2 separate regions of the Homo sapiens genome follow, and region 2 is linked to region 1. Evidence: fine-mapped expression QTL. Tissue or cell type: whole blood. Region 1 holds a variant in brackets; the other region holds the start of a gene. All regions are shown on one strand. Distances are from middle to middle.

Evidence for each region. PIP is the estimated chance that this variant, and not a neighbour inherited with it, causes the effect.
Region 2: it holds the start of BMP2K, and the variant in region 1 is fine-mapped to the expression of BMP2K in whole blood (TOPMed, PIP above 0.99).

The regions. Positions count from the first base shown.
Region 1 is chr4:78,483,702-78,486,464 of GRCh38, reverse strand. All of the region lies in intron 58 of FRAS1 (Fraser extracellular matrix complex subunit 1), which reads right to left. Among named protein-coding and RNA genes, the nearest start is that of ANXA3, 67 kb to the left of the region's middle. The variant T/C (reference allele first, on the strand shown) is at 1,105.
Region 2 is chr4:78,774,946-78,777,577 of GRCh38, reverse strand. BMP2K (BMP2 inducible kinase) reads right to left here and starts at 1,228. Exons shown (of 16, transcript NM_198892.2): 1 at 857-1,228. The coding sequence starts at 1,034. It overlaps BMP2K-DT (BMP2K divergent transcript), which reads left to right and starts at 1,608. Exons shown (of 1, transcript NR_186689.1): 1 at 1,608-2,632. RefSeq lists silencers at 324-524, 886-1,555, 1,646-1,895 and enhancers at 99-729, 1,362-1,992.

The sequences.
Region 1 (2,763 bases):
CATTGGGTATAACGCATTTTCTGTCAGCACTGCTCATAGAACACTTATTGTGCATGGCCAGTCTACAATTATCTTTTTATTTATGGAAGTCTTGTATCCTAAAATAGATTATGGGACTCTGCTCTCCACTACTCTGTAGCCCATACCATGTTGATCACCAGTGCTAGGTATAGAAAATGTCCTATAAACACTGTTACCTCGCTAATCTTCTTAGTAACTGATGAAGTGAATGTAAACGCCAGTGCCTGGAATGCAATAGCCTCTTTACCAGCAACAGTTAAGCCAGAAATTTAGGAGAAATCCTGCCTCTGTTTCACGAGTTAATGAGTATGTTTGCCACAGATGCACACACAGGAGGGTGATACCGTAGCAGCTACAGGACTTTCTAATGCTACCCAGTCAGCATTACTCATGCCCAAGCCCGAGTCTAATTCCAGGTACCAGCACAGCAAAGGTAGGTGAGAACAGGTAAATGTTATAAGATGAGCTGCTTAGATGATTTAAGATCCTGAAATCAGCCTAGTGGGAAAAGAATGAAAGGAGCTAAGATCACTGCAGAAGGCTGAGAGTTGACTTTGTAAGACTCTTGAGTGACGGTTAGCATTGTTATACAGAGGGCAGTGGCCAGCTGAAACTGAAATGTGAAGAGTCAGCGTAGTAGGATATGAAACCAGAAGACTGGACTTGGATAGAGCAGACTTGGATTTTAATTCCAGCTTCATCACTTTCTCTCTGTGTAATCCTACTCAAATTATTCAAACTTGGTTTCACAAGTTAAAGGTCTGTTGCAAGGATTAGGGATAATATGTAAGATCTTTCTACCCTAGAATGTTCACACTGAATGGACTCAACAAAAGTTCGTTATTACTAGGAAGAAAGATAACCAGAAGAAGTAAGTACTGAATGCTATGCTGAGTTACTGAAATAGGTTTTGGGATTTCTTTCTCTGGGATAAGTTATTGATTAAACACATATTGCTGTAGCTTCTCTGAAAGAAAAAGAAAAGCTGTAGCTTTTCTGAAAGAAAATTTTTGCTTAACATATCAGTTTCCTAAGTTGACAAACCCAATGCTCATCAATAAAATACTGAAAAATATTTAAATA[T/C]AATTTTGTGTGTTGATCAGTGAGGACTCTATATGTTACTGGAGTCTTGTTGGTAAGAGTGATAAATGCCAGGTGTGTCAGGAAGAAAAGAAATCAACATGTAATAAAATTTACTGTGTGCCAGGTATTACAGCAGGCATTTTCACATATTTTATCTAATTTAATCCTCACAACAATCTTGTAAGGTAGTTATTTTCATTATTTATAGATGAGCAAAATGAGGCTTAGTAACCTTAAGCTTCTGGCCTAAGGCCAAAGACCTAGGAAGTGGTGGGGCTAGGATTATATTTCAGGACTTCAACTTTGTATTCACTTTCCACTTCATCAGAGGGAAATTAATGGTCATTTCATGCAAAAGAATAAGAAACAATTTCAAGAATAAAACGTATAGCTGAATTTTCTTCTTTCTGTTTTATCTTCCTCTTTACTAAGAAATAAAATTGCCACTGATTCTACTTCTACACCAATTAAAACCATGTAGTATATAATGCAAGGAGGATGAACTTGGGGTCAAAAGTCCTAGAATGCATGCTGGTTCCTCTAGATACTAGACATTGGGTGACCTATTTCCTCTGATTCTCAGTTTCCTTATCCACTAAATAGAAACAGAAGAAAGAGCACGGGGTTATGAGCAAGTGAGATAAGGCTTAATGGATTGCTTTGTAAACTTGGAAGTAACATGCAACATGAGATAATATAAGTGTCATAATCTTGTTCATGGTGTAAAAGTTACCGTTTTGTGAATCACAAACCTAAATGTAAAACTTAAGGCTATAAAACTTCTGTAGGAAAATAGGAGAACATCTTTGTTACCTTGGGTTAGGCAAAGATTTCTTAGATACAACACTAAAAATATGATCCATAATAGAAAAATGATAAATGAGGCTGCTTCAAAATGAAAAATGATTACTCTTAGGATGTTTGTTTACAGAACAAAAAGACAAAAAACAGACTTGGATAAAATATTTGCAAAATATAAATCTCTGTCCAGAATCTACAACAATGCAATACAAGTAGGAAAACAACGCAATTTAAACACCAAAACCTTGAACAACCCAAATGTCATTCAATAGGTGAGTAAACAAATGGTGGTAAATCCATACAATGAAAAGCTAATCTCAATAAATGGAATGAACTACTCACATATGCAATAACATGAATGAGTCTCAAATGCATTTTCTAGTGAAAGAAACCAGATGCAAAATCATAGATATTATATGATTCCATTTTTATGAAATTTTGGAAAAGGCACAACTTTAGGGCCAGAAAACAGATTAGTGGTTTTCAGGGCTGGTGACTAAGGAGACACAGACGACAAAGGCACATGAGATAATTTTGCAGAGTGTTGGAACTGTTCAACATCTTGATTGTGGTAGTGAGCATATCACTGTATACATTTGTCAAAACTCATAGAACTGTACACTAAGGACGATGGACTTTCATTTATGCAAGTTGCACCTTCATAAACCTGGCTCTAAAACAAATTACTATCATTTTGGATGCATGCAAGTATGTGTATGTTTGTTGTATGTGTGTGTGTGTGTATCACACATACATAATTTTATATATATATATATAGAGAGAGAGAGAGAGTTTTTTTTTTCTCCTGAAGGATAAACACACAAAAAACTGGTTAAAATTGTTGTCTCCAGTGAGGAG
Region 2 (2,632 bases), 290 kb before region 1:
CAGCACACAGGGCAAGTATTTTCTACAAGGCAATTATGCCAGAAATACAAAACTAAATTCTAAGTTCTTCTTTTAAAATGGAGTAAACTTTTTTTGTAAGTAGACTTCTACCTGCCGTCATAACCTGTTCCAGATCATGAAGGACCGACCACAAAACCTCGTTAAGTGAAAGTTAACCTGCTTTTATATCACCTTTTAAACTACTATCAAAGAGACATACTGGGAGGGCATGAATAGCACCTTGTCCAACAGAGAAGATTCTAAATAACAAAGATAAATGGGCTCCAAGTTTACCTGCTCCTCAGTGCAACCTACTAACTGAATTTAGAGCAAAGGATCACCTCCAACACGCACACATGCACACAAATACATTGTTTTTCAACAGATGACTGAGCTGCAGCAAAGCCCAGCTTGACACCAGGGGCTGCAGGGTCCTATGCCCTGCAGCGCGGGTGGAGGCTTAGATGAAAAGGCCAACGCATGACACCCGTCTGAGCCACAGCTGGCAGAACGGAGCTTCAACCCTGTTCGATCTGACCCTCTAATGAGTCACTGGCCCAATCGTAACACCAACCCACTTCCTAGCCCGTCTACTACCTATTTTCTCGCGTCAAAAAGCACAGAAAATGATTTAAACTAGGCATGAGAGAACTGTGCACCGGCCGGGGCAGCCAGCGGCAAGAAAAGCCAGCTTAAGAGAGAAAGCCCGAGCCACTCTTTAGGAGCCCCCGCTGGCCCGGCAGCAGAGGAAGAATGGGGTATAAGAGTCAGTCCGGAGGGCGAGGACCCGGAGAAGCCGCCGCCACACCCCAACCCTCCCTCACCTGCCTGTCCGAGCCTCCCCGGGCGCCCGTACCTTCGGCCAGCGACTCTTCCAGGGTGACCTGGTGGCGGCCGACCGCGAACACCCGGACCCCCACGGACGAGCCGCCGGAGCCGCAGCCGGCCCCGGCCCCGGCCCCGCCAGCCCCGCCACCCGCCGCTCCGCCGCCGCTGCCGCCCTCCGACTTGGGCATCCGAGAGAACTTCTTCATGGTCCCGCCGGCGAGCTGGAGGGCGCAGGGAGCGTGCAAGGGCAAGTCCCCGGCCCGGCGCGCAGCCGGGCGTCCGCGAGGGGTCGCCGCCCCTGGCCCGTCCGAGCGTGCTGCGGCCCGCCAAGCCTCACATTCCGCGCTCCCCAAGCGCACAGCCTGGGCCCCGCCGCCCGCTCCGCGGCTCCGCTGCAGCTGCCCGGCTCCCGCAGAGGGCGGTGGGGAGGGCGGGGACGGGGCGGGGCGCGAGGGGGCGGGTCCGAATCCAGGGGCGACGCCGCCGCCTCCGCCAGTGCCCCGGGCGTCCCGCCGCCTCACTAAGCGCCTGGAGCGCGAGCCGGGGTAGAGGAAGAGAGCGAAAGAGGCTGGGCGGCCGGCCCCTCCAGGGAGTGGGCTAGACGTCTCAGGCCACAAACCCGCAGGACCGCAGCCCGTCGCGCCGCCGCCGCCCCGGCCGAACCCGCGCCGCCCGCCACTCGTGGCCGTTGGCGGGGGGGGGGGGGGGGCGCTGCTGCCAACCGCTCACTGAGGCCGGGCGACCCGCGCAGGCGCGCTGCCCGCGCCGCCGGAAGTGACGGTTCCGGCTCTTGTCACGTGGAGGGGGACCAAGGGAGGTGATTGTGGGGGTTGGGGACTAGGGCAAAGTCGGGGGTCCCGGGTCCGGGGTTGCGCCGGGAGGGTACTGGCCAGGCCCGACTTCAAGCAGGGAGGTGGCCCGGGACTGGCTCCCGCGCTGGTCACGCACCGGGGTCCGTCATCTCGACCGGGAGTCGCTGTGCCACTCTAGGGGCTTAAAAATGCCGCCAACAACTTTACCCCTGCTGAGGAACTTCTCGCTTCGTTTCTTAGCCAGTTTTCCAGGCCTTCTCCCTTGAGAGTCTCCTTCCGCTCGCCCACCCTGAGCGTAGGAGGTGGGAGCAGGACGGAACTGGAGTGGATTCCAGTAACTGGACTTCTAAACCGGCTCGGTGTCGTCGCGCTCTGTAGCGGACGCTTGTGCTGGGAAGCGTTTTGCAGTTTATAAATTACTTAGGAGTACTTTAAACATCTCACGCCTGCTGTACCACAGCCATGTGGGGGTATTCAGAACAGGTATTAAGGTCGTTTTGCAGACCATTCATCACTCTTGGCTAAAAGAACTTAACGGAGTCGCCCAAGGTCACACAGCTGGCTCGTGGTAATTGGGGACCATTCTTTGATTCATAATTTTGTGCTTTTGGCCACCCTGAAAAAGTAAGGTCAGATCGTTGAAAAACGGGCAGATTTAAGGCTGTTTGGAAGCAAAAGCGACCACTGCGTTCCCCTCAAATCAAAGAGATTTGCACCCCCTACCAAAAAAAAAAAAAAAAAAAAAAGCCCTGTTGTATCAATTTCATAAACTGCAGGAGTCTCCCGACTGCAGGGTGAAGCAACAAAATAAATATGGGTGTAAAACATTCAGGAGTGGTAGGGAATGGCAAACTGTAGAGCCTGTGTAAAGAGAGCAGCCAATTCTCAGCTCCAGCCTACTTTTCCACAAAAGAAGATAGGCACACACACTGTGCCCAGAGGTTCCAGTTTCTTAAGAGAACCAAAAACCTGGAACTGTTTTCTAATGTGGC